Regions from separate parts of the Homo sapiens genome. Here region 1 is linked to region 2. Evidence: fine-mapped expression QTL. A gene starts in region 2. The other region holds a variant in brackets. All regions are shown on one strand. Distances are between the middles of the regions. Region 1 overlaps ADAMTS12 (ADAM metallopeptidase with thrombospondin type 1 motif 12). Region 2 holds the start of ADAMTS12 (ADAM metallopeptidase with thrombospondin type 1 motif 12).

Evidence for each region. PIP is the estimated chance that this variant, and not a neighbour inherited with it, causes the effect.
Region 1: its variant is fine-mapped to the expression of ADAMTS12 in adrenal gland (GTEx, PIP above 0.99).

Annotation. Positions count from the first base shown.
Region 1 is chr5:33,817,130-33,833,916 of GRCh38, reverse strand. All of the region lies in intron 2 of ADAMTS12 (ADAM metallopeptidase with thrombospondin type 1 motif 12), which reads left to right. Among named protein-coding and RNA genes, the nearest start is that of ADAMTS12, 66 kb to the left of the region's middle. The variant C/T (reference allele first, on the strand shown) is at 8,932.
Region 2 is chr5:33,884,644-33,901,430 of GRCh38, reverse strand. ADAMTS12 (ADAM metallopeptidase with thrombospondin type 1 motif 12) reads left to right here and starts at 9,441. Exons shown (of 24, transcript NM_030955.4): 1 at 9,441-9,701. The coding sequence starts at 9,575. It also overlaps the pseudogene RNU6-923P. RefSeq lists enhancers at 9,158-9,657, 9,658-10,159.

The DNA.
Region 1 (16,787 bases), 68 kb after region 2:
ACAGTGCTAGCAAACTAATGTAGCCCCATTTTTTCCTATGCATGTAGTTAATAATTTACATCATTTTATGTATTTAGCTTTGAATCCTGTTTTTTATTTAATATTTTATTGTAATCATTTCCCGAGTCATGAATTTTTTTGTGAATTAATTTTTCTAGCTACAGAAGATTTCATTGAATGGCTGTGCCATCATCAGTTTAACCATTCACAAAAGCTTGGACGGTTTTTGAGAGAGAGTTTGCAGGTGTAGAGCATTGTAGAGAAAACTTTTTTTCTTCCTTGGTTGAATCTACTCTCCATTGTAAGGTACTTAATTTCTAACAGATACAGTCAAATGTACCTTTTATGTGTGAATTATACAGTTTGAGATATTTTAGCTAACTTGTTCTAGGGAGGTTTTTGAAGAGATGTAAAGACTTAGGACTGGTCCTTGAAAGGTGAAAGTGAACCACTCTTTGTCTCTGAAAAGAAAAGAGAGCTGATATAAATGACAAAGTCCCTGAGCTCCCCTGAAGAGGCAGCTGTGAGAATTCATGTTGCAATGATTATGACCTCGTGTTTCCTTGCTGTGTGGCTTCCCAGTCACAGATACAGAAATGCTTGTCAGAGCTTGGTCCCTTGAGCTTAAGTCCAATGAGGCCAATGGGTACATACAAACTAAAAAAGCAAATACTGTTATGCAGTTGGAGGTGTACTTGGAACTTACTGGAACATGGTTTCTTTGAACAGAAATTTTATTTCTTCCCTCTGCCTTCACATCATCACCATAGTTATTCATGATCATCATCTCACACTAATTCCCATGTGTTCTTAGGAAAAAATGGCAGCAGTGACTCACAAGTTTTGCTTTTATTTCATGGTGACTTATTTATAGCTATTGTACTTCTGGAAGATCAATGACTAGAGAGAAACAAAAGCTTCCCTGGAATCTATGTGAACAAGAGAGATGATATTGACTGAATTTAAAAAGTTAAAGATAGAGGAATAAGCAAGTGGCTTTTTTCCCCTTCACTTTTTGATTTCAGGCCATTTGATTTCAGGCCAATTGTTCAGTCTGGTTTCTACCTCCCACGGCTGTCTTTAGTGCATATGTGAGAGTCCGAGGGAATGGACCTTATATTTATACTGATATAAATGGAAGCAAAGTATGGGTTATAGTTAAAGAAGGGGAAATCCAGCTCTTTGTAACCATCCTTTCAAATAAAGCAACATTGCATTATTGTCCCCAAACCAAGCCGCATCAAGGGAAAACACCACCACCCCGCTAGTGCCTGGTGGAAATTCTCTCTCTGAGCATGCGCATTGCCAGATGGTAGAAATTGTACACGTTTTGCTGAGTCTTTAATGTCTAACACATTTACTTGCACATTTGTTGAATGGAACTCGATTTAAATCTGAGTACAAGAAGAGGGAATTCAATTTTGTGCTTGAGACTATTCCAATTACAATGATTATTTTCAGTTTTCATATAGTGACTTTAAGTAGATGTACTGTGCCCATATCCAAAGGGTTTTTTTTTCCTCACAAAATGTTCAGTTATTTATTGGGTTGTTCTCATTGCAAAGCAAATAGGTAGAACCTGTTCATACAGTACAAATGAGGAAACTGAAGCATAGTAAGCTTGTGGACTTCGATGAATCTCACACAAGGAGTCAGGGGCACAACTTGGGAATGAATAAAAGACCCCCTTCCTATCTAATTATTTCAATCACCAACTTATATATCCTCCCATACAATCCCAGGTTTTTCTTTGGAAATCAAACTGCAGATACTGTTCACACCTTTTCGTGTGAATCTATCAGATAGTTTCAGCAATGGTTCATGAACGACAGTCTTGGTGATCACTTGAAGTGTGAACCTGAAAGCTGCAGAAATCACTGCATTCTTCAGAAGAGAAGGGGCTGTGCTTGGTACCAGCTACCTTGCAGGGACCCTGTGAATCCTGTCTCCTAATTGTAACTGTTTGTTTTGTCATTCCTGGCAGAATGCTTTCTAGGCGTCAGGAGTCCTTGAGAGGACCTCCCCACTTCTAGCTTCTGCAGTGGCCTCGGCCATAGAGCAGGGCTTTCATGACTGTCTCTGCCACCTGGAGCTTTCATCTTGGAGAGCTGGTCATTTATCATGGCAATATATTTTGTTACCTGTGAAGGCAGGAGGGATAATAATCATAAAAAAGCAGCCAGAATAAAAAGAAGGTGATTAAGCAGTCTGCTTAATTTCAGCTATTATTCTATTGGTAATTAAGCAGCACAGTGAATGTGGATTAAGCTTGTTACAATCATGTGATTTGGGGAGTAATGAATCATCTAGAAGGAGGACCAGCTGGAAGATGGAAGCAGGACTCTTCAGTTGGAACCTACAACGCACCTGCTATTAGTTCTCAAAATGCAGTAAGTCAAGCAAAATATTTGCCTTCAGAAGCCAGACTACTATTTGGGCTAATTTGTGCAGAAACTTTCACAGGATAGCAACACTTAAGATCATTGTTTATTTTTGCTAGGCAGGTAACTCACCATCCTTTAAGAGACAGTATAGTAGAGTGGTTTTAGTGGTGGAGTCTGGAAGCAGAATGCATGGACTGGAATTCTAGTTCTGTCATCTTTCCATTGTATAATCTCGGACAAGATATTCAATCTCTATATGCCTCACTGACCTCATCTTTAATAAGGGATATAAATTGTAGCAGTTCATAGGATGTGGCTTCAATGAGTTAATATCTGTAGCATGCTTAAAAGAATGTCATAGTAAATATGCCTTACATAGTAAATATTCTCTATTGTTTTTGCCTATTGTTATTTCAATTGTTTTAACCATTCTTCTGGTGTATCATATGGAGCTATGTGTGTGTGTTTTTGTGTGTGTTCTCCATAAATTAAGAGTCTGTTTGTAGCATAGCCATGAAGGAGATCATTTTGAAAATGGAATTAAATCAGGAACCAAAAGCATCAAATCATGCTACTGTTTTAGTATGGGCTTCTTTTGCAGAAACTGAAAATAAGAAAGAATTCTTTTTAAAATTAATATATATGTTTAACTTATGTATATATCCAGTAAGACACTGTCTATATCAGTATATACATATACTGATATAAGTGGAAGCAATATAAATGAAAGCTATATATATACAGACAGAGTTTTGCTGTGTTGCCTAGGCTGGAGTGCGGTGGTGTAATCATGGCTCACTGCAGCCTTGACCTCCTGGGCTCAAACAGCACTCCCATCTCAGCCTCCCAAGTAGCTGAGACTACAGGTGTGCGCCACCACTCTTGGCTAATTTTTTTTCAATTTTTAATAGAGACAGTGTCTTGATAAGTTGCCCAGGCTGCTCTTGAACTCCTGAGCTCAAGCGATCCTCCAGCCTTGGACTCCCAAAGTGCTGGGATTACAGGCGTGAGTCACTATGCCCGGCCAAGACAGAATTCTTTAGCAAGTGGCTTTAAAGTTGTTAGGACCTCTCGTCCCCAGACACTTCTGTGTTTTATATCAATTGGCTGCTTTCTTGGTAGGCTGACCATTTTCTGACTATCTTCTCTTGTGAATATACTTCTAATCATGTAATTGAGCTAGTCTTATATCAAATTGTGATATCGATCAAGTTTATATTCCAGTTGTCTTACCTCCTTTTTGCCATTTTTCTCCTCATATCACCTCTTCCCTCTATCTTCTGAAGGGATCTGGGTGGTACAATGGCTCTCCAGAGCCCTTATTGGACCATTTAACTGAGGTCTTCCAACTTCATGGATCCTTTATTTCTCCAAAGTTGTCCCATCATTTCTTCTTTAATCCATCAGAGCCTCATGCCCACAGCATAGCTAGAAATGTCTACCTCATTTCAAATTTGAGATCCTAGCTTTGATTTATATCAAAGCCACTGACCTGTCTTCCAGTTTGGGCTGTCTGGCCTCCCTTTCTTCATATGTTAGGGCTCAGGGTTCTAACATTTTATTGAGTTAGAGGTAGGTATGGGCTAGACCAAGAGAGTTATGGAAAGGGCTCTCTGAATGTCACTGAGGCTGATTGCCTCAGATGGAAAAGGACTGGGGCCAGATGGATTTCTCAGTATGAAGCGGGTGAATTCTTTGGGAATTGAGGAAAGCTGGTCAACATTAGAGTGGGACTGGAAAGGGCCATTTTTAAAGGAGAATTTGTACTTTCCGACCACAGCTGCTTAGTTAAGTGAAATCTGCTCTTAGATGTGTAGGGGAATTGTTTCCAGGGAATGAGTTCAGGGGAACAGAGAGGCCCATGGAACAACATGCCTCAGGAGGAATTAATTATTAAGACCCAAGGGGGTTGAAGAAGGCAGGGGGCAGCACAAAGGCCAATGGTCAGATCCTCCTTCTATGCAGTTCTTGGGAAATCATTTCTTAACTTCCAGGCTGAATTTGAAGTTGAAGTCATAGCAGGCAGCTAGCTGTGTGCTGCTTTGGAAAGGTGGGGAGGGAAGGTCCTGGCTGGTGAGAAGAGAAGAAGGATGGAAAGAAGAGTAGTGAGTTTAAAGTATGCAATAATAAAACAGCAACTCAAAGTACTATTAAGAATTAAATCCAAGCACACAGGGAAAAAATAGAGTATGCAGTGAAAGGTCATATCTGGATGAAGCTTTGCTAGTAAGGCAGGTTAGGATGCCCCGTCTCTAAGGCCAAGTCCTGCAGCAGCCTGAGCATCTTCCTTCATGTTACATTCAGGAACGCCAGCTTGGGGAGGAGCACAGCTCATGAGTATGAGTCTCTGAATGGGTTCTTTTCCCATTATTGGCATGCAAGTAGCCTGACGAAAGGTGCCATCTGTTTGTCTCATTGAACTGTATCAATTACGTGATGAAAGAGGTTTTAAGATGGCCATGTGCTGGAGTGGATCTCATTCAGAGCAGTATGGTGTGTATGCCCGTTGCTAGTGTTACCAGGGCTGACAAGGCAAATAGCAGCATGACCCTTTCCCTCCCACTCCCCATCCCAAGTGGAGAGGGATTCCAGTTTTCAATAGGAAAAGATAAATCAAGGATTAGTAACTGCAACACAGGGGCGAAAGAGGATGTTCAGGGCAGAATCTACTGCGACAGAGCCCTCCCTTTACCCCTTCTCCACCAACAAGATCCTGAGTCACTGCATCATACCCTCTGCCACAGTACAGTGGGATCATGTTGGCTTCCCAACCACATACATATTTCTCATCTTACCTCTGCCTAGGGTGGATTGTTGAGCAGATGGTGTTAGAAAAACTGGCTTATAATATGGAGAAAAATAAAACTAGAGGGTCTCATACAAATATGGACCCTAGGTGGATTAAGGACTGAAACGTGAAAGGTAAAAGTGTGAAGCCAACAAAAGAAAATGTAGGATAATATTTTAGTGACTTAGTGGTAGGAACATATTTCTTAATAAAGATCCAAATAAAACACAGATTATATAGCAAAACATTGAGAAATATGATTATATAAAATTAAGCATTTCTGAGTTAACAGAAAGATATAACAGTAAGAGATACCTGAAGAGTTTGGTGTCTAAAAGATAGAGGACATTCTGGAAATAAATAAGAAGATGGGAGATCTGGTAGAAAAATTGACAAAAGCACATGAGAAGGCAGTTTACAAAAGGGGAAACTGAATTGCTTAATAAATATATGAAGTGATACTCGAACTCAGTGATTCAGAAAAATACAAATTAAAAGCACTTGATGTTACTTTATACCTGGGAGATTGACAAAGTCTCAGAAGTTGGTAATGTCAAATCTTGGCAGATATAGAAAACAGGACCTCTTGCACTGCCAGGGGAGTAGCCTGGTGTGACCATTTGAGACAGAAGTCTGAGAGTGCATTCCAAATTAAGTGGTCATATGTCCTGTGACCCAACCATCCCATTCCTGGGTATATGCCCTGGAGGAATTCTTAGATAGGATTATGAGGAAATGATCACAGTGCTGATTTTGGTAAAGGAACTGAAGGTCAACTTAGTAAAATGCATAAAGAAAAACAGCAAATACACACTATGGAATATTTTGTAGCAGTTAGAAGGAACCCACTAGATATGCCCACAGCAAATGGATAGATGGTAACAAGGTATATTTGAGTTTTTTTATAAGATAATAAATAGCATAGTATTTATGACACAATACTATTGATATAAAATAAACTACATTAGCAAACAAAAACATTCTATCTATCTATCTATCTATCTATCTATCTATCTATCTATCTATCTATCTATTTTGTTTTCTCCAAGGACATATCCAAATGCGAGGATACATGTCAAAGCACAACAGAGTGGTTACTATTTTTTTATTAACATGTTTTTTTAATGGGTGAGTAAGACAGGGAAGTGGGGATAAAGGAAATTTGCTGAGGTAATAGCTTTCTATTGCTGCATAATAAGCTACCACAAACTTAGAAAGTTTGGAACAATACCTGTTTATTAGCTTACAATTCCGTAGGCCAGAAATCTGGCACAGCATGACTGGGTTCTTGGCTTAGGGCAGCACAGACTGAAATGAAGGTATTAACGGGCTGAGTTCTCTAGAGACTGTGGGGAGAAGTCCGTTTCTAAGCTCAGTTCTTTGCAGCTGTAGGACTGAAGCCCCTGTTTCTTTGAGTGATAAACCAGTGACACCATCGACTTTTAGAGACTAACTGCATTTCTTGCTATGTGACCCTCCTTCATCTTCAACCCAGTGGTGACACATCAGATCCTCTTCTGTTTCCCATCACCGACTTGTGTCCCTCTGCCCAGCTGGAGAAAACTCTGCTTTCTTTCAGGGTCAATTCTGAAAGTGCTTCCCCAAGCCCATCTGTCAGCCTTGAGCAGACCCCTAATGGGCTGAGAAAGGGACCAGGTCTTTATGCGGTGAATGAGACACATCATTCCATAGACATTAATTTTTGTGGATGAACTGAGAGCTATTTAATAGGAAACAATTACGTGACTTATTAAGGGTCATTAAATTTTAGTATTCATAAAGTCAGTACATGACTAAAGCTTATTATAGACTCCAATTTGGTATTTTACTAAGAAGCCCATTCTCCCCGTAATGCCTGGCAATGTAGCTGAGGTCTCACTACCATCCAAACACATAGATGGCTGCAGTTCTGCAGTTTGGGGACAGAAGTTTACCATCAAGGTAGTACTTAACTGTTTATTTTTATTTGATACTTGTTTTAGTGCTTATTGTTTATTTGGTACTTGTTTTTCATTATAAATTGCTATTAGTTTAGCTTCATTATTAATTTAGGTTATTTGTTAAATAGCCAATAATGGGCAGTGGTACACATTTTCATCAAGAATATTTCTATGTTTTCAAAGAATTAAACTCAAAATTATATATATATATATATATACACACACACACACATACACATACATAAACATATTTCTGTTTTCAAACAGACTTAAAAGCATATATATATTCATGCATATACATGAGTTCATACATATATTCATACATTCATACATACATGTATGCATACATATGTATATGCAAATTGAATTACCAATACTTAAACCTTTGCATATACACTTTTCCAAATTTGCTAGTATTAATATTACTATTTTTTATTAACATTTTTTTTAATGGGTGAGTTAGGTGGGCAGCTAATCATTTGCCCTCACTGAGCAGACTATCATTTTTATAAGTTTAAGTTCCATAGCTGAGGAAGAAAAGTTCTTTGCTAAGCACACTATTGTAGACCACATCAAGATGCATAAATTGAATATAAAATTTTCAAAGAGAAGTAGAGAAAACAATTTATTTCTTGACTTCCCTTAGAAATGTCCCTAACTCTTCTCACCAACAAATCATCTAGGAGTATAGAGGTGATGTAGTTTCATCTTCCCTGTTTTTAAGAGGACTTCTTTTTTTAACACCTCCTAACTGCAGTTCACATAACGAAGTCAAATGATGTGTACCGCCTGTTCAACTATGGCAAGGTAGAGATCTGTTCCAGTGTGGAGTTTTCTAAATTCAATTTGCAGAGGTGAGCTGGTGCAGCCACAGCATCTAGACCAAACTTGATTCTAGTTTGGAGATACTCTCTTCTGGTTACATAACTGAGGAACCACATGACAAGAATACTGCTAGCAAGGTCTCCACGGAGGAGTTGAACCAAAACTCATTTGGAAAGAATTGCTTGCCGTTTGGTCTTACTTTCTCTCCCACTTCCAGAGAGTTTTTGTATAATGGATTATTGCTTCTTCCTCTATCGATTTGCAAAGCAAAAACCATACATTTTAGAATTATCACTGGAAATTACCTGATCTTTCTTTGCAAAAACAAAAACAATTCTGATCACATAAAATTTTAAAGCACTACCTTGATCAAATAGTTTTATGCAATTAGTTAAGAGACTCATATGCTTTTTGCCCTTTAGTTCCTTTTGGGTTTGTGTAGCATCTGCAACACAAATCCTGAATGTACAAATTTTCCTCTTTGCCAGAGTTTCTGCAACATTCATGCAGCTCTTACTTACACTCATCCAGCTTTGGCCACTGACTAAATCTCTCATCTAATGACATGATATATCCAGCTCAGTTTTCCTCTCTAAAAAGTTTGAGCCCACAGCACATTCATTGATATCACCAGAATCCTGGAAACTTGCACGTACTCTGTGTTCTTGGATATGGTCAGGAAGATTTGTCTGGAATTTCAGTAGATGACTTGACTCTTCATACATATAAGGGATTTTCAGCATGCTTTGTGGAGCCACCTCCACAAAGAGACCTTCTTAATAGTAAGCTCTTTGCAGAGCAGAAATGATTTTGCAAACTGGATCTTTGCATAAGCATGGGTGAAACCGCTGTAGTTTTCCCGGGAACTCTATTAGGATGTGCTTGCTAGCTACTTTTAACACACAGCTGCCAAATCTTAGTGGCTAATATCAAATTTTATTTCTCATTCACACGATAGCACAGTCTGGGTCAGCATCTCTAGTGGGATGGCTCC[C/T]CTCCAAGAAATAACTCTCCTTCCAGTGGTAGCTCAGGAATCCAAACTCCTTCATCATGTGGCTTTTGCAGTGTTAGAGTCCCTCACTTCCCATTCTGCTGAAAAGCTATCAAAGTATGAGCTGAGAGTCTTCTAGGAGATTTTAGGGGCCAGATTGGGAAGTATCATCCTAGCCTTAACTGTGTAACTTTACAGAGCAAGGGATGCTGGGAAGTTTTCTTGTGTGACCAGAAAGAGGAAATGGGAAGGTGAACACTGAGGCAGTCTCTGCTGCAACACTGTCACGAGCCTTTCTTCCTCACTTGTACTCCTGAACTGATGGCCTGCCCCTAGACAGCCACTCATTAGCACAGCTGACAGGCTCCTCTTCTCAGGCAACCAGCACAGCCCTCTCTTTTTTGCTTTACACTCCTGGTCTGGATGAAGACAGTGACTTAGAGTGGAGGAATCTATTCTTTAGGTATGATTATGTTATGATTGCTCATTTGTTTTTTATTTTTATATGGACTAACTTGCTCCATTGAAGCCTACAAAAATGTAAACCTGGGGGCAATGTCCTCTTCTAAAAATGAACTGACCAAATGATCTTTTAATATAGAAGGGAACCTACCTTCAAGGGCATTCGAGGCCCACAGCTCTTCACTGGGGCTGCTGCAAACCCGTAAGTCCCCCCTTTCTGTTCCCGTCTTCTGGCAGGTGGCTTCACGGGAAGGTAGCATAGAAGTCTAGGGTTGAGTCCTGGGTCAGGCTCAAGCTGTGTGACCTTGAGGTGAAGTAAAATTAACCATATAAAGCCCTAGCCCAGTATCTGGGATTTAGTTCTTAGGATATCTTAGTGCTTGTTATGATCTATTATTATTGAGAAGAAAGAGGTTTTCCTCAGTGAGTGAGTTGGCTCATGACCATGATATGCTTGGGACTCTTTAACAATTTAAAACTTTTTTCTTTTTCAACAAGCTTTATTGGGGTATATAACTGACCAGTAAAAATTGTATATATTCAAGGTGTATAACATGATTTGATACATGTATGCATAGCATAATGATCACCACAGTCCAATTAACCAACATATTCATCAATTATTTTTCTTCACACTCTTCCTTCTCTGCCCCAATTCACCCTATTTTTTATTCTAAAAACGAGACCCCTGTCTCAATCAGATAATTTTTTCTCATTGAAGGAATCTCAAGGGTCATTCTGAAACGGATTAACGAAGACATACAACATATTTTATTTGGATTCCATAATATTGAAAATAAGCCAAAACTGACAGGTAAATATCAGGAGTTTCCACCTAAACATGTGAAGTTTCTTCTTCTTAAAAAAAAAAAAGGCAGAAAATGTTATAGCAATAGGCTTTTATGCCAGCTGGGCCAGAGTCACTGGGGGCTGAGTCTCCCCTCCCTACAGGGTGAGTCCCGTCTACTCACTGTAGCTCCCACCACTACCTCTCTTTTTTTCTGACACTAAGACCAACATGTGGTAGTCACCATTGATCATTATATTTGTACCTTGTTTGCTAGTGGTTGAAGGATGTTGTTTCTCTTGTGAATAACTACATAAAAAAGAGAGGATAACAAAAGATATGCCTAGGGTGTTAAATGTGTGACAAAGACGGGAGAAGGCATAATTCGTTGTGAAAGTGAAGATCATTCCTGCTTCTAAGTATAAAGCATGTGCCAATTTTGAAAGAATAACAGCCAGTGTGCTTCACTCATTCATGTTACCAGTTTGGCCCTGAAGGCAATTGAGCTTGCCACCCAGGGAGAAAAGCTCTCAGTTGTGTATAATTAAGTATCAGAATAGATAATGCAGTCAATATTATGGGCAGTCCAAAGGAGGGCTTTGTATTTTTTGTATTTCTTTTCTTTTTCTTTCTTTTTTTTTTTTTTTTAGAAATGGGGTCTTCCTCTGTCACCCAGGTTGGAGTGAAGTGGTGTGATCATAGCTCACTGCAGCCTCAAGCTGCCGGGCTCCAAGGATCCTCCCACCTCAGCCTCCCAAGTAGCTGGGACTATGGTGTGCACCATCACATCTGGCTAATTTTTTAATTCTTCTATTTGTAGAGTTGGAGTCTTGCCAAGTTGCCAGGCTGATCTTGAACTCCTGGCCTCAAGCAATCCTCCCACCTTGGCCCCCCAAAGTGCTGGGATTACAGGCGTGAGCCACCATTCCCGGCCTATATTTTTCTTGAGCTGTGCAATGATGTTTTTTATTTTTCTTTAGAATCATGATTTTATTTTTTATTTAAATTTTTTAGTAAGAAGAGTACTCCTTTTAAATACCAATTAATTTTGCAGATCTCCTGCATGATAATAGTAATAATCATAGTATCTTTTAATTTGTGGACCAAGAAAATATATATGTGCACATGGATTTGAGGATTCTTTTAAATTTTGCTGCAACCCACCAGCCATTTGCAGGTGATAAGTTGAAAAACACTTGATGTCTATAAGTTCACTTTTTATTGGTAATTAAGGAACTTTTGGAGAACACCATGGAGATTAAAGAGGTCTTATAGAAAATATAACCCAATTTCCTCATTTGCAGATGAGGAAACTGAGGCCCAATAAAAAGTGAATGAGATCACAGAACTAAAGCCAGAACTAAAGTCTTCCTCCCAGGGCTGTGCTTGCATGCTCTGTGTCCAAGTGGGCAATTATACGTCCCCAGGGTGAGGTTGGCCACTTAGAGAGCTTTCAGAAGTGAATTTTCTACTCAGTGTTAGAGACCAAATGGAGCATCATGTGGCTTTTCATTTTCAAGGCATTAAAATAAAAGAAATCAGGATTTAAGGCATTTCCCCAGCATGGAAGGGAGAAATAGGATCTCTCAATTGTGGAACATGGAATATTCCATGGTGATAAGTTGTAGATTCCAAGGATAGAGAGGAGACCAGGAGTGAGGGAAAAATATAGTAGTTATTTTTCATAAACAATATTATAGAGGACATTTGTAAAAACAAAACAGAATGTGACTTGAAGATGCCTAAATCTTGATTAAACACGTGGAAGAGTAAGTTTTACTATTTTAGTCTAGACAGAAGGTAGACAGTTTCAGGAAATCTAAAATTCATCAGTTCTAAATGAAGAGCTGGAATGTAGTAATCAGTGACTTGGTTGGCAGAGAAACATTATTATACTGAAAACCTTTCATTAAGAGGATTGAAAGGGTGATGTTGGGTAATTAACATCTGTATAGCAAGTTCACAGCTAGAGAAGGGAAGTAGCTTCATGTATTTGATAAAAATGTGACTTGGAGTAGCTAAGCAACAGGAATGATTTTTTTAAATTTAAAATTGTAAGTAAAATGTGTTGCCTTATATATTTCAATTATGTTAAAGCTAACAACGAGTACTTAGAGAGTGGGGAGATGCCTCAGTCACGTACTGCTGGTTGGAAAAGATCGTGACAAGAGTGTTCAGAGGGCAATTTCTTAATGCAGATCAAAATAAAAATTTGTATGACCTAAAACATTATAATTTCATTTCTAGGATTTTATTTCCAGTATATCCACTATAAATCAGTGACTGGGATGATTACAACAGTATTGGCTATAATAACGAAATACATAAATTGGAAACAAACTAAATGCCAAAAAATAGAGAAATGCCCAACAATTGGCGTATCTTCATACAGTGGAAAATTATGCAGTCACTCCCAGTACTTGGGAAGATTATTTGAAAGTAAATAAAGGAATTCATAAGATTGCTAAATATGAAAAGCAATACATGATATGACTCAAAATTTTACATTATAATGATTATAGATATAAATGTAGTAAAACTATAAGAATGTCATTAATGGTCATTACTGGTGTTATGATCATGTGAGATGATGATGATGATTGTTATTATTTTAACTTTTAGGTTCTGTGGTACAAGTGCAGGTTTGTTACACAGGTAGACTTGTGTCATGAAGGTTTGTTGTACAAATTATTTCACGACCCAGGTATTAAGGGTAGTACCCATTAGTTATTTTTCCTGATCCTCTCCCTCCTCTCACACTCCACCCTCTGAAAGGCCGCAGTGTATGTTGTTTTCCTCTATGTGTCCATGTGTTTTCATCATTTAGCTCCCACTCATAGGTGAGAACATGCCGTATTTGGTTTTCTGTTCATGCATTACTTTGCTAAGGATAACAGCCTCCAGCTCCATCCATGTCCTTGCAAAGGACATGATCTTGTTCTTTTTCATGCTGCATAATATTCTATGGTGCATATGCACCACATTTTCTTATCTAGTCTATCATTGATGGGCATTTAGGTTGTCTATGTCTTTGTTATTGTGAATAGGATCGCATGAGATTATTCTCCTGATCTATATTTTCCAAATTTTTTTTTATATATTAAGCTATAGCAATATATAGTTTAGTAATTAAAAAACCCAACTCCATAATCAAACAGAAATTTCTTCTCTCAGTCAAAACCGACTTCAGTTCTACTGGCTACAGAACAGTTTATTATCTCCTCTACCAATAAACTGTTTATCAGTTGTCTTTAGATGTTGTGCAAATGCCACTCATAGTCTAATAAACATATGTTAAAAGATCTGTATAAAGTTCTTCTAAGAGGTCCAGGATAGGAAATGCAAAAGCATACTTAAAAGCAAATAATGCAGGTGGTGCTTTTAACATATTCCAACATGATAACAACTTGATTATTGTTGGCAGTTTGCTTTATGTTTAATTTAAATCTGTTGCTCTTCATTTCAAAGATAAAATTCCCCCTGCAAAGAGCAAAATCCTAGTATTTTACTTTGATTGCTCCCAAATAATTCTGTGATTTCAATTTTTGATTGAAAACATCTAAACAGTGCTAGAATTTGAAGGAACATTTGAAATTATATAACCCAGTCCCTATTTACAGGTGGCACAGCTGAAACCTGGAGAAATAAAGTGATTTTTCCAAGGCCACAGTTAGCCAGTTCCAGAGACTCCTAAATAAATGTCAGCCACTCACCATGCCCAACAATACCTAGAAGGGCTTGCATGTGTCCTTCAACAGCAGAAAAGAAACCAATTGTTACCAGATAATCACAAATACAAAATGGCAGCAAGAGGATGGAGAATATTCCTTTTCCCTTCCGAGATGGCCAACTTTTAGCTCCCCATGGGTACTGTGAGCTGCTTCTTTCCTTGGTCTCCTGCCTCTTTCCTTTTACTGCCTCTTTGTCCTTCTCATCTAGGTTGAGGTAGGAAGTCCATCACTGATGGCCCCCAGATGAGATGGCTCCTTAGTCCTTACTACAGGAAGTGTTTGGGTATCTCAGATTCTTCTGAGTGGATCGTTTATAATGTCCATGCTTCCCAAAGTAATACACAGACTTAACACAATTCCTATGAAAATTTCAATGGTGTTCTTCACAGAACTAGAAAAAGAATCCTAAAATTTGTATAGAACCATGCAAAAAACAAAAACAAAAACAAAAACAAACTGCAAATAGCTAAAGCAAAACCGAGAAAGATAAACAAAGTTGGAGGCATCACATGTCGAAATTTAAAATTATAGTACAAAGCTACAGTAATCAAAACAGTATGATACTGGCATAAAAACAGAAACATAGACCAATGGAACAAATCAGAGTGCCTAGAAATAAATCCTAACCAACTAATTTTTAACAAGGGCATCAAGAGGACACAATGAAAAAAGAATAGTCTCTTAAATAAATGATGCTGAGAAAACTAGATTTCCACTGACAAAATAATGAAATTTGATTTTACATCATACAAAAAATTCAAATGGTTAAAAGATCTAAATGTAAAACTTAAAACCATAAAACTCATGGAAGATAACATAAGGAAAATGCTCCTTGAACATTGGCCTTGGCAATGACTTTTTTTGGATATCACACCAAAAGCTCAGGCTACAAAAGCAAAAATAAATAAATAGGACCACATCAAAGTACAAAGCTTTGCACAGCAAAGGAAACAATCAACAAAATGAAAAGGCAACCTACATACTGGGAAAAAAATTTGTAAACTATATAACTGATAAGAGGTTAATATCTAAAATTTATTTAAAAATTCTTACAACTCAATAGCAGAAAACAAAATAATTTGATTAAAAAATAAGAAAAGGACTTGAATAGATATTTCTTAATAGAAGACATACAAATAACTAACAGTTATATGAAAAAGTACTGAACATCACTAATCATCAAGGAAATGCAAATTAAAATCACTATGAGATATCACCTCACACTGGTAAGTTTGGCTATTACCAAAAAGACAAGAGATAACCAACGTTGGTGAGGGTGTGGAGCAAAGGGTACCCTAGTACACCATTGGTGGAAATGTAGATTGGTACAGCCATTATGGAAAACAATGGAAAACAATATGGAGATTCCTAAAGAAATTAAAAATAGAACTAACATGTGACCCAGCAATCCCTCCTCTGAGTATACCCCAAAGAGAGGAAATCACCACCTCATACATAGATCTACACTCATGTGAATTACAGCATTACTCACAATAGCCAATATGGAAAAAACTTAAGTATCTATAAACAGACAAATGGATAAAGGAAATGTGTATATATGGAATACAATTCAGTCTTAAAAAAGAAGGAGATCCTGCCATTAGGACATTATGCTAAGTTAAGCTAGACACAGAAAGAAAAATAATTGCATGATGTCACTTATATGTGGCATATTTTTAAGAAAGAGCTTGTATACCCAGAGAATGAAACAGTGGTCATCAGGGGGATGGGGGAGAGGAAATATGGACCTGTAGGTCAAAGGATGAAAACAGCAAATATATAAGATATATATAAAATAGTTTAGAGATCTAATGTAACATGAGTACTAAAATTAATAAAATTATATAATATTAGGGATTTTTGTTGTAGAAAATAAGTAGATTTTACCTGCTCTTGTCACAACAAAGTAACTATGTGAGATGATAGATATGTTAAACTGCTTCACCACAGATTTATTTTGCTGTCTACATATATCCTATGTTGTAAACCTCAAATGTACACAGTAACATTTATTTTTAAAAAGACAAATAAATCCATACCTTGCTCTCTTTTCACATGATAAAACCTCAATGCTCTATTTATATGAAAAGGATCTTTTAAGTATCTCTATATTCTACTATGGAAAGATTTACATGATATAATGTTAAATGGAAAAGAGAAAGGTGGAGAAAAAGTCACATATTTTAAAAAATGAGATGATCAGGGACATCTGAATACTGACTGACTATTTGATAAATTAAAGAATTATGGCTAATTTCTTTAGGCGTGAAAAGAGCATTGTAGTTGTATTTTTTTTTAAAAGAGAATCTGTGTTTTTGGAGATACATACTCAAATATTTTCTGATGACATTATCTGCTGTCTGGAATTTGCCACAAAATAATCCAGGATGTGGTTTGGGGGAAGTGGGTGGGTATAGATTAAATGAGATTGTCCAAGAATTGATCATTGCTGAAAATGGGTGAGGAGTACATGGAGGTTCATTATACCATTCTATTTTTGTAATGTTTGGTATTTTCCATAATAACAATATAAAGAACTCCTATTAGGATGTTTAATGGAAAAGGCAGGAACTTGAGACCCTTGAGTATTCAGGGTTTAGAGAGGGAAGAATGAAGAGGGTGAGGAGAATTCCATTCTGTGGAATCATAAATATTTCTTGACTGACTAAATGATAAATTGCAGGTATGAATGAATTGATAACCAAACCTGATTCTTCTAATTCTAGTGCAAGGCAGTTTCCACTAAAGTTCAAGTTAATGTCTCTTGTAAAACATAGACTACTTACTACCTGTAGGTTTCAAGATTGGAGTTTCTTACTTGTTTATCCAACATTGTACCACATGCTTTGACCTTGCTGTGTGACTTATCTTTCCAAAAT
Region 2 (16,787 bases):
AAACAAGTAGTTTTATGTATTTTACCCGTTATTTTCTACTTGGTTGAGTTGAAAGGGCAAATTGCATCCCTATTACTCCATTAAGATTAAAAGCAGAAATCCCTTTTTTTAATATCCTGTTTATACAAGTTTGGGGATTGTCTCTACAATATCTCAGTCAAGCCAGATGTCTTAAACATTCTAGTTAAGAAACATCTGGTACTTATCAGAGATAAAGATAGTTGAAATATTTTTCAGTTGCTAACTTGTAGCATAAACTTTTGATTACATATTACTTCACCATTCTCTGGGTTCATATTCTTTTTTTAAATTTTTTAATTTTTTTAGTAGAGACAAGGTCTTACTATGTTGTCCAGGCTGGTCTCAAACTCCTGAGTGCAGATGATCCTCCTGCCTTGGCCTCCCAAAGTGTTGGGATTACAGGCATGAGCCACCACACCCAGCCCATATTCTTTTTAAAAATATTTATTTATTTATATTTTGAGACAGGATCTTACTCTGTTGCCCAGGCTGAAGTGTCGTGGTGTGATCATGGCTCACTGCAGCTTCAACTTCCCCAGGCTCAAGTCATCCTCTGATCTCAGCCTCCCAAGTAGCTGGGACTGTGAGCCTGTAGTAAGCCTGGCTAATTTTGTATTTTTTGTAGAAATGGGGTTTTGCTATGTTGCCCAGGCTGGTTTCAAACTCCTGGGTTCAAGTGATCTGCCCACCTTGGCCTCTCAAAGTGCTGGGATTACAGGTGCGACCCATTATACCTGGCCTCTTTTTTCTAGGGTGCAAAAGTAACACACAAGAATAATTGATAATGAAATATTTTGAAGTAAATTATAGATATTGTACCCTTTCCCCCAAAACAACTGCTAGTGCATGTGATCTTGGGTCTCAGTGGCCACATCCTTACCAGCAGAGCCCCGGCCATTGGCTCCTTTTTCTCATCGATACTCTTAGATGCTGGAGCCAGAACCACATGTAGAAATGACAGAGAGGGCGTGTGCAGAACAGTGCAAAAGCTCCTGAGCAGCAGCCATGCCTCACCTTCTGTGGAGGTGTCTGTTATAACAAGTGGCCCTTAGGTCAATATTCACAAACCTCTTCTTGCTTAAGTGACTGATGATTTAAATAGATATTTTGCTTTGAGAAAATCTGCAAAGTAGTTTATTCCTGAAGGAAAAGAGAGGAGAGAATAGTCTAACACTAACTCCAGAATCTCTTTCCCCAGGTCAGGTGGGAGTTCAGCGAGGAAACCAACTCTTTTTAATAGGGAGACATTTCTGTGGGCCTCAAAGCCCAGATCCTTCCCCAGAATGTTCCCCACTAGTTCATCCTCCCACACACCCATACTCTAATCAAGTATTTATTCACCAGGCTCATCTTTGAGGGAAATGCAGAAATGAATAAAGCATATTCTCTGCACCTACCGTTTATAATCAAGTAGAAAATCAATCATCAGCATCTAATGAACTCGAATCTCACTGTATGAAACGCAGCTCAGTTGCCTGCTTTCTAATTCCCTACTTGGTGGCATCACTCGTTTTTGTGAGTTCTTCACAGACTTCCCTCTGCCTTACATAGTAACCTGTGTATTCAATCAACATAACCAGTGTACCTGATTTTCTCACACTAGCTTTCAAAGACTGCATCAGGCTATTCAGAGATATATCACCACTCTTGCCTTCAAAAGCTGAATCACAACACCTTAATCTGATTCTGGCTACTACTTTACTCTAGGAAGTAGTAGCTAAATCAGTACAACCCTTTGATCTTGGAGGCCTCCGAAGAGACTTGGTGCAGATTTCAGGTGAGAGCAAAACAAGTAACTCACAGTATGTCAAGTGTTATCTGTAACACACAGAGGGACTATAAAGTAGCAAAGGAGGCCTCCCTACCCTGCCCCTGGCAAGATGGGCACCATTTTTAGAGCATGGCAGTGATGGATAAAGGCGTTAGCAGAGGCAGGAATGCCTGAGAGCAGAGTCTGCATTTCTGTGCTCCAAAGAATCAAAGTGCTGCAAATGCTCATCTGTGGCTGTGGAGATAACCTACACTTCTCTCTAGCAGTGTGGTCAAGCTGTATTGAGACTCAACAAAACCATAGGAAATCTTTAATCTTAATCTAGGTTTAACTTCAAAGCTGATTTTTTGTTAATGTGTATCTTTTAAAGTCACCTTTTTTTTTTTTGAGAAAAGTTCTCGCTCTATTGCTCAGGCTAGAGTGTAGTGGTGCGATCATGGCTCACTTCAGCCTCTAACTCCCAGGCTCAAGAAATTCTCCCACCTCAGCCTCCTGAGTAGTTGGGACTACAGGCATGCACAACCATGCCCAGCTATTTTTTTTTTTTTTTTGGTAGAGAAGGGGTCTCCCTATGTTGCCCAGCCTGATCTTGAACTCCTGGGCTTAAGTGATCCTTCTGTTTCAGCCTCCCAAAGTGCTGGAATGACAGATGTGAGTCACTGCATCTGGCCCAAAATCATTTTATCTTGAGGAGAAATATGTACTGTCCATTGACATGCAGTTGTTGGAGCACTTGGGGTCCTTGCTTCCTCAACTCCAGGAAAAGATCTTTAACATGAATAGTGGTATGCATGCATCTGCTTGCTTCTAGGCTAGGTGTCCTTGACCACGTTTTCCCTCCATAATTTTTCTAATGGTCAATAGATATTTAGTGAGGAGGTGAATGAATAGACCCATTGTGATATATCTATACAATAGAATACAACTCAGAAATAAAAAGGACCAATGTATTGGCACACAATATCCACAGATCTCAAGTGAGTATGCCAAGTTAAAGAAGGCAGACAAAAGTGAGTGCATACTGTAGACTCTACATAAAATTGTAGAAAATGAAAACCCATCTACAGTAACAGACAACAGAACAGTGGCTATCTGTGGTTGGTGAGACATGGGAGAATGGGATTACAAAGGGGCAGGAGAAAGTTTCTGGTACATATATGTCAAAATTTATTGTGATGATTATTTAACAGGTATATTCATCTCAATATTTATAAAAGTGTGCACTTTAAATATGTTCGGCTTATCCTATGTTAAATTATACCTCAATGAAGCTGAAAAAAAAGAGTGGGTACCAGTATGATACAGTTATTCACTGATAACGACAACTTGGTCAACAATGGACTGCATATATGACTGGTCTCCTTAGATTATAATGGAGTTGCTCTATAATGGTGTGCCACATTCTATCTTTTATACTGTATTTTAACTGTACTTTTTCTATATTTAGATATGTTCAGATACACAAATACTTCCCATTGTGTTACAATTGCTTACAGTATTCAGTACAGTAACATGCTATATAGGTTTGTAGACTAAGAGTCATAGTTCATATCATGTATCCCAGGTGTGCAGTAGACTATACCATCTAGGTTTCTATAAGTTGTTAGGTGACTTCATCATTGTCAATGATGAAAATAACTTACAGACACATTTTACATAGAGCATCTCCATTAAGTGACACATGACTGTATATTGTTACTGCTACCTGAACTAATCTCATTTACTCACTTCAAACTTTCTTGAGGGCACAGCTGATGTCTTCCTCTCGGTGATCCCAGGAGGATACCAAAGAGCAGTGAAAAATAGAGGCAGTGGCCCTCTCAGATCACAGTAGAACTCCCTGACCCTCAGCTGGTCTCCCGCTCTGAGTAGGAGAGGCACACTCCAGGCTCTCTTAGGCTTCTGGTTGAACTCAGTGAGTTAAGAGAACATAAAGAATGGGGTAAACTAGGACTGTGGATGTTCCTTGGTACACTCATCTCTTCCTGACAACACTCTCCATGAGGGAATTTCTAATCTGGACAGATTTCAAGGACGTCGATCACACTGCATTTATTGGTATGTGGAGTTATTTTTCTTAACTGATCAGACTCAGTCTTTGGTGTCACTCTTCCATTTTTGTCTTCCATGCAGCTTAGTATGAAGAGCCAGGACTCCTTTCCAGCTCTTACTCCAGTTTGAGCTATTGAATAACGGCTCCTTTCTCACTTGATTTCAAAGATAATATGCTGTCTTGGGTCTCCTCTTGCCTCATTGCTCACTCCTTGGTCTTTAGTGATTTCTCTTTATTTCCTGTAATTCTAAATATTGCAGTACCTCAGAGTTTAGTCCCCATGTCTACTTTCTTGTCTACTGAATTCACTCACAGGTACTCTCATCCATGTAACTACTATGACTTCCAAATGGATACTTCCAACCTGGACTTCTATGTGAAACTCAGTCTCGTATATCCAACAATCTACTTGACATTTCCATTTGGATATCTAAGAGACATCTAAACATGTCTCAAACCTCCCATCTTCCCCATCTTAATTACTGGCAATGCTAAACCTTTTAGTCATGTGTGATTTCTTGCTTTCCCTCGTGCCACACATCCAAATAATCAGAAAATCCTGTTGGGTCTACCTTCAGAATAAATCCAGAATCTGATTAATTCTCCCTGTCTTTTGCTACCACTTGATCTAATCCACCATTTCCTCTTACTTGGGTTAATCCAACAACCTCCTAACTGCTCTCTGTGCATCTGCGTTTATCTCTCTGCAGTCATTCTCAACCCAGCACCCAAAGAGATCCTTTTAACTCCTAAGTCAGTTCTTGTCACTCCTCTATTCAGAATCCCCAGTGCTTCTTAACTTCCTCAGGGTTTCAGAGTTCTCACTATGGTCTCTAAGAACATACACAACCTCCCCACTTCTACCATCATTCTACTCTTGTCCACACACTCCAGCCATGCCAAACTCCTTGCTTTTCTTGGGCTCTCTAAGCATGTTTCTACATATTCCCAATGGAAGGTCTTTTCTATTACTGTTTTCTCAGCCTGGAATATTCTTCTCCTAGATATCTATTTTGCTCAGGTTCTTACTTGCTTCAGGTTGCTGCTAATATCATCTTATTAGAGAGACCACTCTTGACCCCCTCATATAAAATTGTAACCTACCCCCCTCAATCACTCCCTGTTCTCCTTAGCCTGCTTATTGTTATCCATTGCATTTATCACTGTAGCACATATTCTATATTTACTTGCTTATTTTCTACCTCCCACAAGCTCACACTAGAGTGTATGCATGCATGTATGAGAAAAGAGACTCTATTTTATTCACTGCTCCATTCCCAGTGCCTAGACATAGTAGACAGTCAATAATATTTGTTGAATAAATAGAGTATTTTCTTTTTGCTAAATGGGTAGTACTGAAATTGTCCCTGATACATTTCATCCTTAATTTCTTCCTGTCTATGGGAAAAAATGGGCACGCTATTCTTCAACTCAGATTTAATCTTTAAGGTTGAATGAAAGAAAAGGGATAGTGTCCATGTGGTTCAGGACCAATATAACACCAGTATGATAATGGTAAGAGCCACAGCTATCAGCTTGGACACTTTTGCCCAGTTGCACCAAAAACTACCATACATTGGCATTTAGTTGGCTAAGTTCCAGAATATAATAGATAAATGTGTCATTATAGGCCTCCCTAATTTCCAAAAAATTCTACAGCATCTCTACCAAGCTTTCAATTGTTATAAAGAATGAGAACAGACTAAGACATTTGATAGTTTAATAAAATTTAGAAGCAATCTCAAACTTACAGCAAAGTTGGAAGTGGAGTTAAAAAAAAGAGACTTTCGTGGTCTCAGTAACTTGAGAGAATTCTTGTGAGATCTGGTTGCAGAAAGATTTAAAAGAAAATAATACATGTGGCAACAGTATTTAAATATGATGTTTGAAGTCACTACTTTTTGAGTTTCAGGTGGAATTAAGGTCTAACTACTCTTGAAAACGTCAGATGAAGATTTTTCTCCCTTCTACCCTTTGACCTGCTTGGGAGAAACACCTTAAAAACTGTAATGTTCAACACAATGATTATTGCTGTGAGATGATGATTGTGGTGTTTAGGCAGAATTAACAGATGTAAAGTCTCTTTTTGTGGCATATTCATTTGTGATTCTTAGGTCCAACTCAGGGTTTTTTGGGCCACTGTCAATTTATTTTTTGTCTTTCCAATGCTAATGACAGCTCCGAAAGATGCATTAAGCTAATTTTCCTTGAACTTCAGCCATCCCTTGTGATCCTAACGGTTTATTAGGAAAGTATGAACATTTTTTATGCCTTATTTGCTAATGAAACAGAGGGAGCTCTTTGTGAGGTATCTTAGATCTTGGGTCACAAATTGCATTTTTACATGGAAAAATACTATAATGAACTAAACTACCACCCAAGGCATTCTGATGATGTCTATATGTCAGTGTTCTAATCCTCTTCACTCTTTGTGGATGAGGACATTACTAGGGGCCTGAAGTAAAACAGACCTATATTTGAATTGACTTAGTGGTTTTGCTACATCTTTTAACTTCTCTGAACTTTAGTGCTTCATCCTGATTTTACTTTCACAGCCACTTAATCCTAGGCAAGTTACTTAACCTTTCAGTGTCTGTTTCCTCATCTATAAAATGAAGATACTAATGGTACCCACATAATAAGTTTTTTATGAAGTTTAAGTAAAGCAATACCCATATAGTCTTTAGCACAGAGCCAAGCATATAGTCAGCATGTAATAAATGCTTGCTATTCTTAGCTATCATTCAACTCTGGAATCTTGCATGGTTTTGTAGTGTTTCCTCAAGGGCAGCATGTTTGTATAAGCTCAGAGGTAGTTTGGATACTATGCAGTGATTCACAGTTCTGCTATCTACAGTGGGCAGGAGAGGTAGTTGGCTTTTTTATTGCTACCAACCTTGGTCACCAAGGGGATTTGTTACCTTTTCTCATTAAGCAGAAGCAAAGTTGAGGAGGATTAAGTCTCTCTACGCTGAGGTAACTCCAAGCTTTGGAGAGATTTTTGTAAATTCTGGAAAGAGTAGGAGGAACGTTAGAATAGTAGCAGAATGTATATTTGTGCTAAGTCATGTTGAGAACGTGCTAAAGTTGGAGACATGAATTGATAGTTGCACAATTAGATGCAATTATGTGAGTTTTTTCAACAGCACTTGGAAACAGAGAGCAGAGAAAATCAGCAGCTAGGGTAAAACAGAGTTAGATTTTGATGAGGAAGATATGAGATGTTGAATGTACTGGTTTAAGGAGGTGGATCAAAGGGTATGACTGGGCAAAAAAGGTGGTGAGTCCAGAGAGATGCTGATTATTAGAAAACCAAAGATGGGGAGATCAAGGAACTAGAAGTTCCTACTAGGCTGAAGATCCGAGGTACTGGGTATAAAGGTTTGGAAGGGCTGGCAGAATACAAAGTGTTGGTGGGATTTTATAATTTTAATATTTCAGTCTTGGTTGACTTATGGATAATAGATATTCCTGGTTATGGTCTTGAGAGTAGATGGGAGAAAGAATAAGGGAAATGCCATTAGAGTTGAAGAGGCTAAACTGTGAAGCCAGAGTGTTCAGTGTATCATCCCTGATATTGGTGGAACTCAGCAGTTCTCCAGAGTTCTTCAGGTTTCTGCCTGAGAGACAAATCTCTTCTCCAGGACCTGGGAGCTAGGAGTGATCTTGCCCTTTGGACAAGATCTTGCTTGCTATTAAAAGGAGCAGCAGGAGAAAAAAAGGTGGAAGAAGAAGAGTGACAGAAGAGTACAAGGAGGAGAGAGAAACAAGGAAAGGGTGAAGGGAAGCAAAGAAGAAGGGGAAGAGGAAGAAAAGAAAAGAAGCAAAAAGAATTCTAGCCCAAAGTTGTTCTTCAATGCCCTTGCAAATGCAGGTCATCATGCCTGTGTTATCTGAATGTCTTTTAACTCCAGTTGTGATCCTGCTTCCTAATGTTTACGTAACAGAAAAAAGGCTCAGAGTAGTTCTTTTACTTGCTTGTGACAACAAAACATGTTCTGTTACACGTAAAGGGGATTTAAGGTTGCAGATGGAATTAAGGTTGCTAATCAGCTGATTAGGAGAGTGTCCTGGTTAACCAGGATGAGTCTAATGTAATCGCAAGGGTCCTTATAAGTGGAAAAGGGAGGAAGAAGAGTGATGTGATGTGAGAAAGACTCAAAGGGCCATTGCTAGCTTTGATGGGGGAAGAGGGCCATGAGCTGAGGAATTCAGGCAGCCTCTAGAAGTTGGAAAAGGCAAGACAACAGATTCTCCCCTAGAGTCTTCAGAAATGAATGCAGCTGTGCTAACTCCTTGATTTTAGCCCAGTGAGACCAGTTTCAGATCAGAACTGTCACATAAGAAATTTGAGTTGTTTCAAGCCACTGAATTTATGGTAACTTGTAACACCAAAAATAGGAAACTAGCATATACCTCTCAAAGTCTTGGTGCCCATGTGTTCCACATCTGAGAGGACCACCTTGCTTTCAGACCACTGAGTTTGCCTTGGAGGCTCTGTCCCTATACAAGGTTGAGTAAGCTGGTATCCCAGAACTCTTGATTAACACATGTGGTTGGCTGGCAGCCAGGGAAAAGTCAATATTGGGGGCCGAATTCTTCCTGAATGGAGTAAGGAGGCCTGTTTCAGCTCAGAGGTGAAAAATCTTGGCTGGATTAGCCCAGTAAATTCTCAAGATGCCTGGCAAGCGTCCTGGATTGTGGCATTCTCTGACCGATGTAAAAGCTTGAGCCTCTGAATGAATGGACGCCCTCTCCAGGGTAGCCAGTTCAGGGAAACTGGGGAGATACCTTAACACCTTCCTGGGTTGACTTAATTCCTGGTTTCCTTTTGAGTGAATGGAGGTGGGCTAGGAAAGATGGGGTTCTAGAATCAGAAGAGCCGCACAGAGATCTGCAGACTCAGAGGGGCCCACAGGCATTTGCAGCAGTCACCTCATTGCACAGCTGAGGGGGCTTGTCTGAGGTCACATTAGCAGATTAGCGCAGCCCATTTCCCTTTGTGTGACTTGGCAAAGAGAAAAATCGCCTATTAGTTTTTCCAGTGGAAGAGAATCCCAGAGCGGTCCGAGTGGGTGAGGAGTCTTGATAGAGCGATGTTGGGAAAAGTTCAGGAACTTGGAGGAGAACAGCAGGGGAGGGGGCAGCGCTGAGCGCGGAAGGATGGAGGGAGTGGGGCCCCCCTCTGCCTCAACTCTGTTCTCCTCATTTTGAGCTTGTATTTAAGCACGCCGGGGGGCTGGCCTGGGGGCCTCTCACTCGCAGCTTCCTCCAGTGCCTCCCAGGGCGGCTCTCCCGGGTCTCCCCTATTTGGCCGGCTCGGCCAGCTGGGCCTGGCGTTCGGGGCGGGGCCGGAGGAGCGCGGGGGTGGGAGTCCGGGAGGAAGATGCACCGAGCGGGCGGGCTGCGAGGCCGCGGGGCATGCGGGAGGCGGAGGGGTGGGGACCGGGGTGGGCTGCGCCCTCCCGCTCTGGCCCATTCCACACCCCGCCGAAAGCGGACACTGTCAGCTGAATCACTCCCCTTTTAGGAGGAGGGAGGGGAAAAAGGTGTCTAGCTCCTTTCTGCTTAAAAAAGCACAGGGAGATCGCGGGCAGCTTTGCAGTCGCTGCCTTCTCGCGCCTGACCATGCACCCCTGCATCTTCCTGCTGGGCCACAGGCGAGCGCTTTATTTCTGGAGCTGAGGGCTAAAACTTTTTTGACTTTTCTTCTCCTCAACATCTGAATCATGCCATGTGCCCAGAGGAGCTGGCTTGCAAACCTTTCCGTGGTGGCTCAGCTCCTTAACTTTGGGGCGCTTTGCTATGGGAGACAGCCTCAGCCAGGCCCGGTTCGCTTCCCGGACAGGAGGCAAGGTTAGTGACTCTTCTTTATTTCTTTTTAAAACAGTGGTGGTAAGACTTGCGGGAATTTTGTTGCTCCCCTTTCCCTTCCCCCACCCGGCAGAACTGAACTCTGAAAAGCCATTTGGCTGCGTTGTAAGGAAATCTGGGCTGGGACCTCAGGAGCCTAGGCTTTCTCAGAATTCAGTGCTTAAGGTGATGAGTCCTTCATTCTTATAGAAAGGTGAGTACCTCACTCTTTTACAGGGATGACACTGCAGTCTTTGAAAGACCCAAGAGGTAGCTGGTAACTTTTTCTCTTTTGTCTCCTCTTTGAATGCTGTACTGTTTTGATCCCCTATTTTTCAGACTCTAAACATGGAAAATTTTTTTTTTAAGTGCTAACTGGCTACTGGCCGTCATTGCAGTGTTTCTAGTTAGTTTTAAACCTCTGGTCAGGAAAGGGGAAATGTGATTCTTCCCCCCTACTGAGCAGGCTTGGCTGTGTTTTGGTTTCCTGGAAAGATTTAGGGTTGTATTTTTGAAAGAATAGTCCTTTTGGGGGAACTATACCTCCATAAGGGCTCACTTTTTCCTGTCCTGTCTCACTGACCACAGCTGGCTGCTTCTCTTTATGAATTTCTGAACTCATGTTATTGTAGGAAGCATTGGAAGCGTTCTGGTGGACAATTTGTTGTTGTTGTTTTATTCTTTTAAGCCTAACAGTCAGCAGTTTATTGGACTTGGAAGGGTCAGAGGCACCTTCATGTTTGGTGGGGGGTTCATTGTACCTCTGGGGGTAAACAGTCCTAGCAGCAGCAATGGCCCGCGTGGCACTCTGTGTCAGCCCATCCGATCACTGGCAATAGCCTTCCAGGGTGCAGGTACCAGTGTTGCTGTCCCTGCTGTACAGATGAGGATGCTGCAGCTTGGAGAGCTTATGAGGCCAGCTAATGTAGAGCAGAGTTTTCAGCTCAGGTAGTCTGACTCTTAGAATCATGCAGCACTGTCCTGTAGCAATAATAGGGACACACACGCACACACACACGCATATGCACCCACACGCATGCACACGCACACAGAGCACTGGGTTAGCATGCACTAAGTCCTGTGTTTGCTGACTGTGCTGAAGCCTCGGGAAGTGTCCTCCATGACTTTCTGACATCCCTTTAATTCCCAAGGCCACTCGGGTGATAAACATCACCAGCCTGTCCTTGTTTAGGATTTCTAAGCAGGGTTTTCTGCTCATGTTGTAAAATTCAAATATTGCTGGACAACTCATCTGCTGTGGCTTCAAGACGTATCAGAAGCAAGTCCCTCTCTTTGCTTTACTTGGAAAGCTGGAGCCAGCAAACACTGGGGTTAGATGTCAGTCAGCCAGCACTCACTTGTGTAAACGGTCCAGATACAATCTCCCACCCCCAAGTTTAAAATAGCAGGGCTTGTTGTTCTTTGAAAAACAGTTCCTTTGTGAAAAGTCTCCCTTCTGGGGCAGCACAAACAAAGCCTGCAAGCACTTCCCAGGGCATTTGGAGATGATTTCGTTCAAAGACACACATTCTCCTGGGTTGGTTTTCAGCTCTGCTCCACATCTTCTTTGTAAGGGAATTCAGCTTGGTGTGAAGCAGACACCACGGGGCCATGGTTTTTGCTCTCTGGAAAGTGAGATATGATTATTTTCCCTAGTCACCTCTATCTAGAGCTATGTGCTGAGAGTATCCACTGTTCAAAAAACCTATAAAGTGCTCCAAGCTTATTGGTGATATATATATTTATTTAGGTTTAAAAATAATTAGAGGTTTTTGTTTTTCGAGGCTGAGTCTTGCTCTGTCTCTCAGGCTGGAGTGCGGTGGTGCAATCTCAGCTCACTGCAACCTCTGCCTCCCGGGTTCAAGTGATTCTCCTGCCTCAGCCAACCAAGTACCTGGGATTACAGACGTGTGCCACCATGCCCGGCTAATTTTTGTATTTTTAGTACAGACGAGGTTTCACCATGTTGGCCAGGCTGTCTCCAACTCCTGACCTCAGGTGATCTGCCCACCTTGGCCTCTTAAAGTGCTGGGATTACAGGTGTGAACTACTGTACCCAGCCAATAATTTCAGTTTTTAAAAGCATTTCACCAACCACAATCAATTCCCTAGTGGATTTACAAATAATCCACATTTGGTGCAAAGGAGAAATTTCTAAGCAGACTTACATTTAGAATTAAGAAGGAAAGTCACAAAGAGGGAGGAAGGGATGGATGAGGGCAAACCAGTAGAGAATGAAATTCTAAGGCTATCTGGGATTAGGATGGCCTGGGTTTTTCCCTCCAAATGACCTACCTACAGCCTCACAAATAACCAATCTCCTTAGACTTCCATTTCCACTTTGATAGCATTTTTGAATGCATTCAAATCCTGAACGTTTAAACTTGCAAATTACTTCAGGATCATCTCACCCATTCTTATTTTTGAAATATTTAATTTTTTTTTTAATAGAGATGAGGTCTAGCTATGTTGTCCAGACTGATCTTGAACTCCTGGCCTTAAGCAATTCTCCCACTTCAGCCTCCCCAAATGCTGCGATTACAGGAATGAGCCATCATGCCTCGCCCCCATTTTTACTTTTATGGATAAGGAATGGGAGGTCTAGGGCATCAGTTAGTCAACATATATGATTGAGCACCTAATAAATGCCCCTTCACGAGGAGGGTAAAGGGAATTGCACAGGGTTCCACATTTGGAGACAGATTCAGACACTACATTACCTTTTAGGTTCCTTCTAGTTCTAAGAGTTGGGCTAAGTCAGGATTTTAGTCGTTGGAAGGAGTATGGAGATAAATCCAGTCCTTTCTGGGACTAGAAACATAGAAACAGGCTATTTGACTAACTGCCCAGTATTCTTTCCACATTGCTCAGTTGTGATATAGGAATGTGCTGTGACTTACACAGGATTTCTTGGTTCACAACCAAGTATCAGAACAACGGGAAATATTAATCTTGCACACAACATGCTGCGTGTCTTCTACAGCCAATCATATCCCCTTAGGTTTGTTTACCCCTATGCTGTTTACAAAGCGCCAGTCTGTTCCATGACCTCTTTTGCTCCTGACATCTCTGTGAAATCAACAGGACAGTCACTTTATTCCATATTAGAGATGAACTCCAGGCTTGTGCAAGAAACAGAGGGAATGTTGCAGTGTTTTCAGATAAGAGTTTTAATTATTTATGTATTCTATTAAAAAAATTCTGCAAGGAGGAAAGGATTTCAGCTATTTTCTTAATGTAAAAAGAGAGTTCACAGATTTGATATTTTGTGTTGATTATAATAATCTATACAGTTAGCACATTAGTTATCATAAAGTTTATGAGCAAATCCAACCTTCTGTGGCATACTTTACAATTTTGAGGAGCCCAACACAGTTCTTCACAACATTCCAACATGTGTAAATTTCTATAATAAAAATAGCGTTGCAAGGTTACAGTTATCTTACATGGAAGATAATTATGAAAATAAACCTCTATTACAGGAATTTCATAATCTTGTTTTTTAGAAAGGGATCTGAGAAATTCAATTGTCTCTAAGATAGAAATAAATATAAAGAATAAGTACAGATAATGCTCGCTTTGGAAGCACATATACTAATATTGGACCGATACAGAGAAGATTAGCGTGGCCCCTGCTCAAGGATGACATGCAAATCTGTGAAGCGTTCCATTAAAAAGAAAAAAGAATAGGCCGGCGTGGTGGCTCATGCCTGTAATCCCAGCACTTTGGGAGGCCGAGGTGCGTGGATAACCTGAGGTCAGGAATTCGAGACCAGCGTGGCCAACACAGTGAAACCCCATCTCTACTAAAAATACAAAAATCAGCCGGGCGTGGTGGTGCATGCCTGTAGTCCCAACTACTGAGGAGGCTGAGGCAGGAAAATCTCTTTAACCCTGGAGGCAGAGGTTGCAGTGGGCCGCCAAGATCATGCCAGCCTGGGCAACAGAGCAGGACTCTGTCTCAAAAAAAAAAAAAGAATAACTACTATAGACTGAGCCTAAACTGTATACAACTAGTAGGTAAATATTCTCTTACCTCTGTCCTTTCTAAGCTGAGGGAAAAAGATGCCTTGTTTTGTGTTTTCAAAAGTGCTTGTGCCAGTAGCCTTTACTTGAATTTCTCATGAAGTACCATTGAAACTTGTGGACTGAGGCCTTAAATATAATTTTAAACAAGGCAAATCAAAGTATTTGGAGCTTATAATATTTCTACAAACCCTTGTATAAACTGTGATGTAATTTTCATGTATCTCAGCCTCTGGCCCTCCCAACCCCACACCTTATTGACAACCCGCCTTGACATCTGTGCTAGGTGACAGACCCTGGAGATGCACACAGTGAGGGCAGAGCTTAGGAGTGTGTGCTCTGGGATCCGATTGCCCAGGAAAAAATCCTCATCCCTCACTGTTGTCACTTTACGGAGATGGAAGTATAGTCCCAGATGAGGGATACAGTTAATAATGCTTACTCAGAGAACTGTGAGGATTAGATAAGACCAAGCCGGCATACTCTTAATGTAGTACTTGACCATAGAAATGATAAAAATTAGGAGCTATTATTATTTCTTGACACCTATTTCTCCATCGCTGTCATATCTCCTCTGAGTTCTGCTTTCATTGGCCAAGATTATAGCTAACAAATCTGCCAAACTAATCTTAGCTTGCGGAGAGGAGGCTATGGTGAGTGTGGGCTTCTCTCCTGTCTCTGCTTGGAGGTTACACATGTTTATGTCCACAGTGATCCCGGGTAGCCAAGTTCCTACCTTTAAAACCAACAATGCTAATGTTTAGCTAATGAATGTTATTTGTCAAGCACAATTTTAAATCTATTAAATATATTAATACATTGGAGCCTCACTCCCAGCCTAGGAGGTAGATGCTATTATTATTATGCCCATTGTATAGTTGAGGTAGCTGAGCTTGGGTCACCAACACAAACCACACTTTGTAAGTGACCCCCGATTTCCATCCACACCTATGGGCTGCCATGGCTTAGCTGCCTCCTATGCAATTAGATCAGGAGGGAAAACCGATCTTATCCCTCATCACTTTGCCCAACAAAGAGGCAATTACTAAGTCCATTGATTGCTAAGCAAATTGAGGTGTAAAGAGGTGAAGCACTTCTTGTCTGGTCAGATCACCGTCCCTGGGAGCAGTGTTATCACCTCTAACCCTGCTATACTCTTTGCCAAGAGCAGCTGCTTTTCTTTATTTACTAATGAAGTGTGGTGGCTAGAGCATGGTTTTGAAATAGGAGGCACAGCGTTTCAATCCAAGGAATGTTATATAACGTGGCATAGTGACTTCCTACATTCGGTTTCCTTATCTATGAAATGGGGATAACAACTGAATCTCTATCACAGGGTTGTTGTGAGTATTGAAGGAGGAAAGACTTATGGTAGCTGGCTCATAGCAAGTGCTCATGAAACACTTACTATAATTATTATCATATTATTCTACAGCCAACTTAAATTGGCTCTCTTAAAAATTCATTAGATCAAAAGCAACTGGGTCAAAATTTATAAATTTGTTTGCTCTTTTATTTATTGGGCAATAGGTGCTAGGGCATAGGCAAACTTTAGTCTTTCACTTTATACTTTCAAAAATCATGTTTAAATCTGTGAGATGTATCTTCAGAGGCAGTTTCTATAAGGGATATTTTAAGTCAGAAAATTTATGAGAAAAATTGTTATTTTCTGGATAAATTGAGATAACTCCTAGATTAAGTTTGCTTCCGCCACACTCTTCCCGTTGCAGTTCTTCTAACTCAGATCTGGGACTATTGCTTCTCTGCTGGATGGCCTGGATGGCAGAATACCAAGCCTGCCATTTAAGGCTGCCTCCACCCTGGCCTGCTTTTTCTCACATCCTTGCCTCCTGCTAACACTCCTGTTGATCTGTCACTCCAAACTCATTTTGCTTTCCTATTGCCTGAGAAGACCTCGAGCTCTACTCTAGCTGCCCCCTCCCCATCTCCAGCAGTCTCAGTCAAGGGATGCCTCTTCCAAGGTGAATTCTTCCCTCAGGATGCAGCCAGCTGTAATGGGCACAGTGAGCAGGGCATCGGGAGTGATCATTGTCAGACTGCCTTGTATCATGGGGCACTGGCATGCCTTACTTATCTTGTCTACTGGATATTCTCTATAGTTCTGTCATAAGCCAGCACAGCACTCTCCCATTCAATCCTTCTTACCTATTTATTTTTAATTGGGAAAAGCAACACAGGAACTACAATTTTTTTTTATTATTTTTTATTTTTTATTTTGAGACGGAGTCTTACTCTGTTGCCCAGGCTGGAGTGCAGTGGCACGATCTCGGCTCACCGTAAACTCGGCCTCCCGGAGGAACTACAAATTTTAAAAGGAAAAACCACACCCCAAATCTCATCATCATAAAAATATGTACTCTTACCCATTATTTCAAAGGCTTTGTTCATATGCATATATATTAATATATCTCACAATTGCAATTATAGTAGAGATGCAATTATACATTTATTGCCCCTTTATTATATCCTATTGTTTCCATATTTCTGAAAAATTACCACAATTATTTTGATATATCATCTCACACAAAAATTTAGAGTAACTTTTTAATAATGTAAGATTGATTTAGAATCACACTTGTTGGTTTCTGTTTCATGACAACCTAAATTTTATTATAGTTGTTTTCTAAGTATAACAAATAAGATATTTTCAACTCTTTTCAGAGTTTTTCAATAGGTTATAGCTCATTTGACTTGGAAGAGTATAACATTTTATTCAGAATTCATGTTTTAAAATGTGATTGCTTTTCGTTCGTGCTCCCTTTAAATCAGTCAGTCTGGCTTTTGGAAAAAATAATCTGCTAGAAAAGATGCTTATTTTTCTGTTTTGATGGAGATGCAGAAACTTGCATGTATAACAGGGTATTCAAATGGGACTCTTTCTTTTGTCTCAGTTTCTGCCAAGACCTTAAGTCTGAGAAGAAAGAAAAGATTAATTTTCCACATACACTTAAAGAGAAATTTCAGACCATATGTGTGGGACTTGCAGGGTGATGGTGTGATTCTGATTCCTTCACTCTCCTAGTATGCACGTGAGGAGAGGCT